3 linked regions of the Homo sapiens genome follow. The protein of the gene in region 2 interacts with the protein of the main gene of each other region in a pairwise test. Each region holds a gene or a part of one and is shown on either strand. Other genes may lie near its edges.

What was found.
Region 1: the proteins of SKAP2 (region 2) and EEIG1 interact in a protein complementation assay, tested with the Homo sapiens proteins (one study listed by BioGRID).
Region 3: the proteins of SKAP2 (region 2) and FGR interact in a protein complementation assay, tested with the Homo sapiens proteins (one study listed by BioGRID).

What each region holds. Positions count from the first base shown.
Region 1 is NC_000009.12:127,974,390-127,977,989, forward strand, and holds part of EEIG1 (early estrogen-induced gene 1 protein), read right to left. Parts: intron 1-3,600. UniProt on the Homo sapiens protein: Key component of TNFSF11/RANKL- and TNF-induced osteoclastogenesis pathways, thereby mediates bone resorption in pathological bone loss conditions.
Region 2 is NC_000007.14:26,862,510-26,866,329, reverse strand, and holds the start of SKAP2 (src kinase-associated phosphoprotein 2), read left to right. Parts: upstream 1-1,739; 5' UTR 1,740-1,900; coding exon 1,901-1,967; intron 1,968-3,820. UniProt on the Homo sapiens protein: May be involved in B-cell and macrophage adhesion processes. In B-cells, may act by coupling the B-cell receptor (BCR) to integrin activation. May play a role in src signaling pathway.
Region 3 is NC_000001.11:27,633,150-27,636,969, forward strand, and holds the start of FGR (tyrosine-protein kinase Fgr), read right to left. Parts: upstream 2,037-3,820; 5' UTR 1,916-2,036; intron 1-1,915. UniProt on the Homo sapiens protein: Non-receptor tyrosine-protein kinase that transmits signals from cell surface receptors devoid of kinase activity and contributes to the regulation of immune responses, including neutrophil, monocyte, macrophage and mast cell functions, cytoskeleton remodeling in response to extracellular stimuli, phagocytosis, cell adhesion and migration.

The sequences.
Region 1 (3,600 bases), on a different chromosome or scaffold from region 2:
CCATACCCCAGCTCCTCGCCTGACCCTGGGAACAAGTGCCTGTTGGCCAGGGGCTTCTATGCCAAAGGCTTATCCCGATCTCTTTCCTGTCCAATTCCCCTCTGCCTTCAAGGCTCCCAGGAAGGGTCACTTCTTCCAGGAAGCTCTCCCTAACTCAGTGATGTGCCACATGAGGACAAGGACCATGCCCAGCCTGAGTTAAGTGCTCAATCCACATCTGTCAAATAAATGGACAGACACCTGGACGGAAATGCCTCCCCAGCTGCCTGCCGGGATCCAGTGGGATGCAGAAGGATATGCCCTAGATCTGCCTTGCTCTGAAGCTTTCACGATGCCCACCAAGCTCACTGCCCCCACCTAGCTGGCAGCTCCATGGAAACAGGGCTGTCTAATCATGATCACCTCCAGAAGCCCAAGACAAAGCGTGTGTTCAGGGAAAGTGGAACAGGCACACGTGCCCACCAGCCTCCTCTCCCTCTCCAGTGTGCTCAGCCTCCAGAGCTCCTGCTCTGTGAAGGAAAGTGGGTGCCCTGCCAATCTAAGAATCCCATCGAACCTCCACGGCCCCTGCTCCACTCAGCTCCAAGGGACAGAATTCTGTGTCCATCTCCATCCTGCCCTCCTGGAGCTCCACACTGTGCCTGTGAGCAGGCCTCCCCCGGAGGTGGATTCAACCAGCATTCCACAGCCTTTTCCTAGAAGGGCGGGTGAGGGACCAGGGGGGTGGAGGCTCTGGCCACAAGTGTGTGGAGTGTGAGGAAAGACCCGGCCAGGCTGGCCTCCCCAGGGACTGGGCCTGGCGTGGGGCCCCCAGCGCGGCACTGACCTGGCCAAGGCCTTCTTCATACTAAAAGAACCCCACCTGTGCCTCCGGGGCCACCATCCCAGCCGTGCCATGGAAGGCAGGCAGCATCTTTGTGGTGGGCGGCCACGCGCCCACCAAAGACTGCCCAAATCAAAAGCCCACTGAGGATTCAAGCCTACCAAAGAAGAAAGGCCAGAAGAGGGGCCTCCAAGTCACAGGCTGTCTGTTTCTTGGACAGTCTGGCACCCAAGTACAGAGCACAAGAGGACCCCAGAAGGACCCCCTCCCCGTTCTGGCCCAGCCTGCCTCCTTCATACAGAGAGTTACTAAGACACAGGGGACAGAGGTCAGAGCCAGGCCCAAGTCCACTCAGCTACGCCATCAGCTCCTCCTGTAAGTGGCCGTAGCAAGTCACTTCTCTGCCGCAGGCCTCAGTTTCCCCATCTGTTGGCTGAGAAAATGCTCTCTGCCCATCTCCTCCAGAAAATACTTGCTATGAGGTAAGTCAGTGCCTCCCTTGTACTCCTCTCCCCTGGCACCACCAGCCACGTGCATGAGGCAGACACAGGACTGGTGCCAGCTGCAAGCAGAGATCTCTTGGGTGTTTGAGATTCTTCCTGCCCAAGGGCTGCCTTGGACAGGATGGCAGCTCCCCGACTCACCAGACTTGGCTAGGACCTCTTCCTCCCTCCCGGGACCCCTGGGAAAGCCTCCCAGGCCCCCCTATGTGGATACATATGCCTGGGAGAATACAAATGCTCACCATGCCCCAGTGCCAGCCCAGGCCTGGCCCCAAATCCACAGCAGTGACTTCAGCCCCACCCCCTGAAAGGTCCTGGGGACACTTTTCCTTGGACCTCACGAAACCTACCATGGTGCCTCCTAACTGCTCAGCTCTGGACTTTCCTGAACTACCCAATCCATGGAATGGAGCCTTTCTCAAAGGTCTGGGGCTGTCACACGGGTCTGCAGCTGCTTCCGGCCCACTGCCATCAAGGCAAGACAGGGCCTTAGAGCTGGACCTGCCCAAATTCAAATCCCATCTCTGCAATTTCAAGCTGAGTAGCACAGACCCAGTCACTTCAGTTGTCCTGACCCCAGCTTCCTCACCTGTAAGTGGGGTAATGCCATCAGCCCATGGGGTAGGTGACTGCAGGGCCTCAAATAATCATCTATTTGAGGGGCTAGGCAAGCCCCTAGCATACAGAATGCGTACAATCAAGGGCGCTTTATAGAACGATAAAAGTGTTAATTTCCGAATTGCCATTTACCACCTGGGTGACCTCTGGCACTCACCTCTCTGGCTTTGGTGCCTCTCTGGATGGCTGAGAGGATTCATGGAAATACCAGTTGCAAAACAGTCAGCACCCTGCCTGGCACAGAGTGCAGGAGCTCAGAGCACAGCAGCGTGAGGATCGCTGCTCTCAAGGAGGCCTCAGGAAGATGAGGCTGAGCAACAGCCTGATGCACCACCTGCTCTACCTGCTCAAATTGGGTCAGGCGAGCGGTGTACCCAGCTGTTGCCAAGGCACCCAGCACACAGGGAAATACTCCAGCCAGGACGGCAGGTGCTGTAGGGGTGGGGCCTTGGGCCTGCTTCACTGACACCACCCATGCTGCCACCACCAGGTCTCTGGGCCATCTCGGGGGTTCCTGGGGGTGGGGGAAATATGCTATTGATCTGGGTCCAGGATCTAACCAGGTCCAGTTCCCCCAGACCCTACTCCAACCTGGAAACAATGGGGCCTTTGCTGTCTAGAGGGGCAGACTGTGAAGCGGGGTTCCCAGGCTGCAGTCCAGGGTGGGTGGGGTACGGGTGGAGGGGGTAGGAACCCAGGAACCCAGGAACCCCCGTCTACTGGGCAAAAACACAGCAAACACCAAAGCAGCTCTAAACTGGCCTCAGGTTCCAATGTCACTGTCTGCTGTCTCCAGCCACACCTACCCAACAGCAAACAGGTGCCTGGTGGCCACTAACTGCCCAGCTTTGCGAGAGCTCAGTGTCAGTTCCTCCCTCCTCAGCCCCATTCAGGTTGCATGCAGGACAGGGCTGGGAAATGCTTTGGGCTTAGCTGGATTCAGGCAATTTAAGGCCCCTTGCCAGGAGGAAGAAGGGAAAACAGAGGTGAAATCCAGACCCTGTGGACTAAGACCTGGAACTTCCCACACTTTCCCTAATGGGGAAGCAGGTTTGGGCAATGGAAAGGCCAACAGGTAGGGAGACAGTGGCTCCAGGGCCTGGAGGCCAGGCAAGTCCTCAGCCTGGGGCTCAAAATTTATATTCCTCAATGGGATCCAAGACCCTGTCCCCACTCCCAGCTCACACACAGGCCCCCTGCTGACTGGATCTGGTCCCCACCCCACCGCCCACCAAAGACCCGGAAAGGGCTGGGCCCCAGCCTGGGCCCCTCTACCAACAGAAGCGATAACTGCTGCGGCAGTGTGCCTGGGCGAGACATAACACACAGATTATCTGTACTCTAGAGGTGGGTATGACATCCCCATTTTACAGAAAAGGAAACTGAAGTTCAGAGGCACAAAAGGGTTGAATGCAGGCTCCACTGAATCAACTCAGGCAAATCATTTCCTCTCAGAGCCTGTTTCCACCTCTCTAACATGGGGATAATAATCCTATGGGGCCCCCACCTCCACTCCTGCTCCATGACACAGTCCAGGGGTTAAGTGAGAGGTGCTAGTAAAACAGGGAGCCCAGCACCAATGGTAGCTGGTTCTTGCAATCAGAGAGCTTAGGTAACTTGCCCAATGTCACTCAGCCAGTGAGTAGCCAACTCCAG
Region 2 (3,820 bases):
ATTTGCTGCTTCACCTTACAATTTTATGCTCTGAAGATGGCTTATTTCCTTAAACATCATGAACCAACCTCTGCTAACTTCCAACTTTTCTTCTGCAGCTTCTTTACCTCTCAGCCTTCGTAGACTTGAAGAGAGTTAGGGCCTTGCACTCGATTAGGCGTTGGCTTAAGGGAATGTTATGTCTGGTTTGATCTTCTATCCAGAACATGAAAACGTTTCTTTACCAGCAATAAGCCTCCTTCGCTTTCTTATCATTCGTGTGTTCACTGGAGTAGCATTTTTACTTTCCTTCAAGGACTTTTCCCTTGCATTCACTACCTGGCTGTTTGGTGCAAGAGCCCTAGCTTTTGGTCTGTCTCGGCTTTCAATATGCCTTCCTCACTAAGCTTAATCATTTCTAGCTTTTGATTTAAAGTAAGCTTTTGATTTAAAGTAAAATGATTCTTTTACTGGAACACTCAGAGGCCATCGTAGGGTTATTAATTGGCTTAATGTCAATATTGTTGTGTCTCAAGGAATGGGGAGGCCCAAGAGAGGGAGAGATATGGAGGAAGGTATAGGGTTGGTAGAGCAGTCAGAACACACACATTTATGGATTACAGTCGCTGTCTTATATGGGTGCTGTTTGTGATGTCCCAAAGTAATTATAATAGTAACTTCAAAGATCACCATAACATATACAATAATAATGAAAAAGTTTGAAATATTGTTAGAATCACCAAAATGTGACAGAGACATGAACTGAGCACATGCTTTTGGAAAAATGGCGCCCACAGATTTGCTTGATGCAGGGTTGCCACAAACCTTCAATTTGTTAAAAAATGCAATATCTGGGAAGCACAAAGATGTATGCCTGTTAAAGGTTTTAAAGAAGCCATTTTTTTTAAAAGAGAAAACTTTTAAGAAGCTTTACAGATAGAAGACAGTAAGTATTTGTTGACTAAATGGTCAAGTTGGAGTGAGCAGATTTTATAATTTTATTCTACTAACCACCACCAGCAATTTTATTTTTGATGCTTGTAGATGGACAGTGGTGCCAATGTCTATTCGGCCTTCTGTTTTTTTGTTTTGTTTTGTTTGTTTTTTCCTGCCAAAGGACGGTGCTTAGAACTTCCCAGTCTTCCTTGTAGTGGGGAAAATCTGTCACCCCAAGGATACGAATTAGGTAGAAAAGTAATGTAAGAGCCAATCACAACGCGCGCTCCGGAGCGGCTCCAGACTGGCTTCGCCCGGACGACTGGCGGAAGACGAGACTTCGTTACCTCCGTTCAATCGGACAAAGAAGGCCATAATAGTTTAGGACAAGAGAAAATTCCTTGTGGGTTAAACTGCGGTGGGACTGACTGTTACGCAGAAGGCGTAATCGCAAAACTTGTATACACTCTGTATCATGGATACATTATTTTCTGGAATCCTGCAGAAACGATCAGCAGTTGTGATGGCACCAGTACCGAAAATGGCTGTAAGGCGCTCCGGACGCTGGATCAGGTGACGCAGCATCAGGTGACGCAGCCTCAGTCCGCCCCCTTCCCACCAGTGGCTCCTCCTCCTGCTTCCCGGCGTAGCGGTGGGCGTGGCTTGCCCACAGGCTCTTTCTTCTGGGGCCGGGAAAACCGAGGAATACACATGCGCAGTTGGACCCCTCAGGCCCTTCGTGTCCCTTCCCACCCATCTCCCCGCCCCGGCCCTCTGGGCGGGGCTGGGCCGACAGTCCAGCTGCAGCTCGCTGGAGATTCAGTGACTTCCTTGTTGTGAGCCCCGGCCCGGCAGTGTCCCGACTCGTAGCCCCGCTGTTCTTAATCCGGGCCGCTAGCCTGAGTCTAGGTCGCAGCCGCAGCCCCACCCCGTCGGTCACCTTTTCAGCGCAGGTCCTTTCCCCGCACGCCCTGCGCTCCCTAACATGCCCAACCCCAGCAGCACCTCCTCTCCCTACCCCCTCCCTGAGGAAATTAGGAACCTGTTGGCAGGTAAAGAGCGGGAAGGCGGCGATAATGCTGTCGGGGCGGGGGCGAGGGAACGGTGAGCCGGTGGGGACAGAAGCATTCAGAGCCCTTATCCTCCCTCCCCGCGCTTCCCACGTCTTCTAGCCAGTGGGGTCGGCACAGGGAGGAGAGGAGAGGGGTTGTTTTGTCTCAGAAAGGGAGTGGACGTGTGTGTTGAAATTTGGTGCGGGGATGGTGGCGAAGCCCTTTTTGGTGATCTACACAAATGGGATCAGGACGTTTCTATGTGCATTGTGAAGACGGTGTGTGTGTGTGTGTGTGTGTGTGTGTGACAGAAGGGCGGGGGAGGAAGAGTGGAAGAGGGAGAGAGAATGATAATGATAATGAATGCTGCGTGAGCAAGCAGAAGGGAGCAGAAGTCAAATAAGTAGTTCTTGGGTGGTCTGGCCAATGGAGGTAGAGGATGTAGAGATGCAAAGAGCTGTCAGAGCCACAGGTGTTAGGGGTTATGGGGTGAAAGAGTTTGTCATTTCTAAAACTCCCGTTTTTCTTAAACATTCAGCTCACTCACGTTTAAGACTTTTGAAGAAGGTCTGGTTCTCAAATGGCCACTTGTCCCCAGCCTCAGTAATATATTAAAGCAAAAAAGGAAGGATATGTTAAAGTTCTACTTCCTGTGTGACACGATGAAAGTACTTCATCTTTGTACCCTTATCTTCCCTTTTTCAGTTTTACATTACCATTTATAGGAACTTATTTTAGGAGCTAAAAACGTGGTTCTTCAGTAGCATTATGAATCCACTACTAGTTCATTAATTTACTGGATACGGAGGTGTGTATGTTCACTAAGAACCAATAATTTATATTTCTGTACAAGGTAGAAAATATATGTTTTTAAGGTAGCACAAATCTTACCTATCTCAATGTTCTGGAATTTCAACCATCATTTATTTTGTCTTGTGTACGTCAGAATTCTGGAAACTGAATTTTGATTTTTAGTTTTAGATGTCTATAAAATATTTATCTCTCAGTATTGCTTATGAATAACTAGATTACAGATTGCTTATTCTAGCTCTTAAAAAGCAATGTCATCTAAAATGTGACATTTGATGACACATTTTATATGTTACTCCTATAGCAATGTGAGTCCAAATCTCCTAATATTCTGTCATTCAATTTTGGTGCTTGGCATTATTAATATGGTAGTGTAATATTAAGTGTATGAATGTAGACTTATGTTTGTATGATTATGGTACAGTATGTTGAATGCATTTGTGGTGGGATAGTCTTTCACTCTAAGAAATGCTTGTTGTCATTAACGGGTACCACTAAGGGAAATAGTTAAAGAAGTCTAAAGACTGACTTCAGGCAGCTTTATTGCATCACATGACTACTGATTTTGTTTTACTACACTTAACATTTTTTGTTTTTACAATGCTGGAATTGTTTGTTCAGAATATTATTGTAATAACCAGCGCAGAAAAATGTTTATCATTATTCCAAAAATAGATGAAACCATTTTCAGGATATTCTATGTCTGTATTTTTGAATTTAAGAAATAACATATAGACCTCTGGGTGCATGTTTTAAAGCTTGGTACCTCCCATAGTACAGTTTGTTATTTGGATCCATAATCATAAATCACAGATAATATGATATGTAGGTCATGAGAACCTTTATTCTCTTATCCCCATAGATCACAAGTATTTCCTGTGGCCCTTATTTGTGTAATTTAACTAAAAACTCAAAATTACATATTTAAATTATCTGCCAATGCTAACTTCCAATATATTTCTGCCTTCTCTCTTTAGTCAGGTAATATACTAGCATAGCATCTGAAATTATTTTAAGTCATTTTATTGACATTTTCACTATTT
Region 3 (3,820 bases), on a different chromosome or scaffold from region 2:
CACACCCTCCTCCCCGGAGGGTACATGAAACTTGGTAGGGATGAGGTAAGGATTCAGGCCTCAGCTCAGGCTACATCAGAGACGAGATGTCCTGGAATTCTGGTCCCTACTGTTGGCCCTGCAGGTTGCCAACTCCCAAACCTCCATCTTCCCATCTGTGAAGTGGGAACAGGGTCCTGCTCTCCCATCATCACCACAGTCGGAAGGATGCCAAGGACATCAGGGCCCCTGAGAGTACACACCCGAGGGGCGGCCAACTGGATGCAGCACCAGAGAGGGTGTGAGACAGATTTTAACTCTGCTGACCTCCCCAGTATGGGCTCTCATCAGAGCCATAAACTATTTAGACGCCAACTGTGTGCTGGTCCCTGGAGGCCCTGTCAGTGAGAGCCGGGCAGTCTGGTCCCCCTCCATGCTTTTTGTTGTTGTTGTTGTTTACAGACAAAATCTCACTCTCTCATCCAGGAGCTCTCACTGCAGCCTTGAACTCGTGGGCTCCAGCGATCCTCCGGCCTCAGCCTCTGGAGTAGCTGGGACTACAGCAGGTGCCACCACTTCCAGCCTTCTGGCTAACTATATTTTTTTGTAGAGACAGGACGGGGGTCTCCCTGTGCTGCCCAGGCTGGCCTCCTCTGCATGTTTTTGAGAAGGTGAAGGGGAGGCTCGCTGAGTCAGGGATAGCCCTTAACCCTTCAGGACACTCAGCAAAAACTGCTTTCTGCACCTGATTCTCGTGGGGGAAGAGTGGACACAAGGATCATTTCTCACCATAGTTCAGATGAGGAAAGTGAGGCCCAGAGAAGCCCTGTAACTTGCCCACAGTCACACAGCAATTAAGGGCCCAGTCTTGCTAAGAACCCAGGTCTCTCAAACAGCAGATCCTCCACCCCAGGATCCCTGAACACAGCGGCATCGCCTCCTACCTCGGTCGGGAAGCCCACCCCCCACCCACCAGACCGAGGATTCCAAAAGGGGGCGAAGGCGGAGAGCAAAGGGGGCTGCGCCCACCCGGAGCCCCGCGGCGGCCCAGCGCGGCCCGCCCTCTCGTTGCCTTGGAGGCAGCCCCTGCGGGCACTCGCGGTCAAAGGCAGGATTTCCGTCGGGGCGGCAGCAATTCCCGGATCCAGCGGGGAGCGCGGGCCGAGACCGCCGCGGGCGCGGAGGGGGCGCCCGGAGAGGCCTGTCCCTGCCGAGGGCGGGGACTTCCCCAGGAAGCGGGGACCCACGCCTCGCGCGCCCGGCAGGAGTCCCCTGCAGCCCGGAACCTACCGCAAGGGCGGGCCGAGAGGGTCGCGGGGCCGCGGTCGCGGCCGCTAACGTTACCCTGCGGGCTGTGGGCTTCACCCCGACTTCGGCCGGCTCGGAAGAGGGGAACTTCCTGGACCCGCAATTGCACCCCAGGTTCTCCGTCCTCCAGAAGTCGTTCTCCTCAACCCCCTTCCCGCCAGCTCCCTCTCCTGTTCCCTCCAGCACCCCCACCCATTTCCCCTCTCCTGGACCCATCAGACCCGTCGGCTTCTCCCCAAAGTCCCACTCTCACGATCCCTTCAGTTTCTCCCCCAGACCGTCCTGGGGATTCCCCTTAATCCTTCTCCCCCACCTCAGCCCCCTTCCTAAACTCTTATCAGTCCCCTCCATTTTACCCACTAGACCTTTTTGGGGGTCCCTTTGGTCGGCTTCCCCCGTGCTCCCCTCCGCCCTCTCCTCCAGGTTTATCAGCCTTGCTTTTCAGGTCGCCCGTTTTCCTCCTTAGGCCTTTTCGGGCTGGGGTCCCTTTGGCTGTCACCTTGCTCATGTGTCCCCCGACCCCCAGGTTCAGGCTTCTCTTCCCGTGTACCCCCAGTCCTCTCTCCAGAGCCTCGAGGGGGAGGGCACTGCTTGACCTGCCCAGTCCCCACCCGACGCTGTCGCTTACCTGGAGCCCAATTCTGCCCGGCCCCGGGGTGAGCCAGCCGGGGCTCCAGCAGCCGCGAGTGCCGGCGTGCGGGGAGAACTGGGGTGCTGCCCGCCTCTGACCGCCGCCCCTGCTGGGCAGGGAGGAGGAAGCCGCCTCGGACTTCTCTTATTGCAGTCACGGCCGGCGGGCGGTGATGGTGGCAGGGAGACAGTCACGCCCTAGCCCCAAGCCAGCTCCCCGCAGCGAGGAGGCGCCCCCAGATCCTAGGCCCACCCGCCCCCACCTTCCTCCTCCCTGGTTTACGGGAGGTCGGCTCTGTCACCCTCCAGACCTGAGTCCCCAGCCCGGCCTTCCCAAAAGCCCCCTCCAAAAGCGCAGTTTCAGCACCCCCGAAGCACCTGCTCTTTTAGGATCATTGAATTGGAGGTTAAGAGGGGCTTTTCTCCATCACTGAGGACCAGATCGGGACTGGCCTTACTCGAGTTCTCACAGCCAGTTGACTTCAGACTGCTGTCACCAGAGCCACTGGACATGGATCACATGGACCCTGTCAGCACGCCTTCCCTTCCTCAGGGGCTGAGCACTGGGGACACAGGGCTGTTAAGGGTGGTGAGCAGCAGAAGACCCTTCCCTTAGGAAACTGCCTTTCAGAGGAGTGGGAAGGGTGTCAGCCTCCCCCAGGCACCCAAGTTTTAGAAAAACTGAGTAACTGGCTGGGGGCAGTGGCTCAGCCTGTAATCCCAGCACTTTGGGAGGTTGGGTGGGAGGATTGCTTGAGCCCAGGAATTCCAGACCAGCCTAGGCAGCATAGGGAGACACCATCTCTACCAAAAAAAATTTTTCTTAAGTTAGCTCGGTGTGGTGGTGTGCACCTGTGGTCCCAGCTACTGCAGAGGCAGAGGTGGAAGGATCCCTCGAGTCAGGCAGGTCGAGGCTGCAGTGAGCTGTGATTGAGCTACTGCACTCTACCTTGGGTGACAGAGCAAGACCCTGCCTTAAAAAAAAAAAACACAAAAAAAGAATGTGGGTTTTGTTGCAGAAAATGACTTTTTTTAAAAAAAAGAAAGAAAAGGCCGGGTGCAGCGGCTCACGCCTGTAATCCCAGCACTTTGGGAGGCCGAGGCGGGTGGATCACGATGTTAGGAGATCAAGACCGTCCTGGCTAACACAGTGAAAGCCCATCTCTACTAAAAATCAAAAAATTAGCCGGGCGTGGTGGCGGGCGCCTGTAGTCTCAGCTACTCAGGAGGCTGAGGCAGGAGAATGGTGTGAACCCGGGAGGCGGAGCTTGCAGTGAGCCGAGATGGCGCCACTGCACTCCAGCCTGGGCGACAGAGCGAGACTCCGTCTCAAGAAAAAAAAAAAAAAAAAAAAAAAGGAAGAAAAACTGAGTATCTTAGAACATGTGGAAAAAGATTTTTAAAAACAAAAAGAGAAACGGTAGCATCCTCTATCAGTTCCAGTCTCTCTGTCTGATAGGGATCCCTGACCCCTCCTCAATCTGGGGTTCAGTCCCCACTCCCACCACTGTTACTTCAGCCTTAAAGCAAGAACCCGGAATATCCCTCCTGTCCAGGAGAGGAAGAGGTGTGGTGGGGAGGGCTGTTTGGTGGAGAAGGATGTGTCTGTTGGGATGTGGTGAGAGGCAGGGAGAGTGTGCGTAAACACAGAAGTGTGTGTGTGTGTGTGTGTGTGTGAGAGAGAGAGAGAGAGAGAAAGCAATGACATGATGACTTTGCTTTTGGAATCAACAACTAGGCCATGGTGTGCAGGCAAGTGTGTTTCTTTGTATGGGCAGGGGCATGTGGGGATGTGTGTGTGCATGCGTACACATGCTCAAGTGTGGCCCAATGTGCCTGGGGTAACAGAGTGGTGGGATGGAGATAAGAATGCTTTTCTCTTAGGAAATGGGAGGAGGGATGA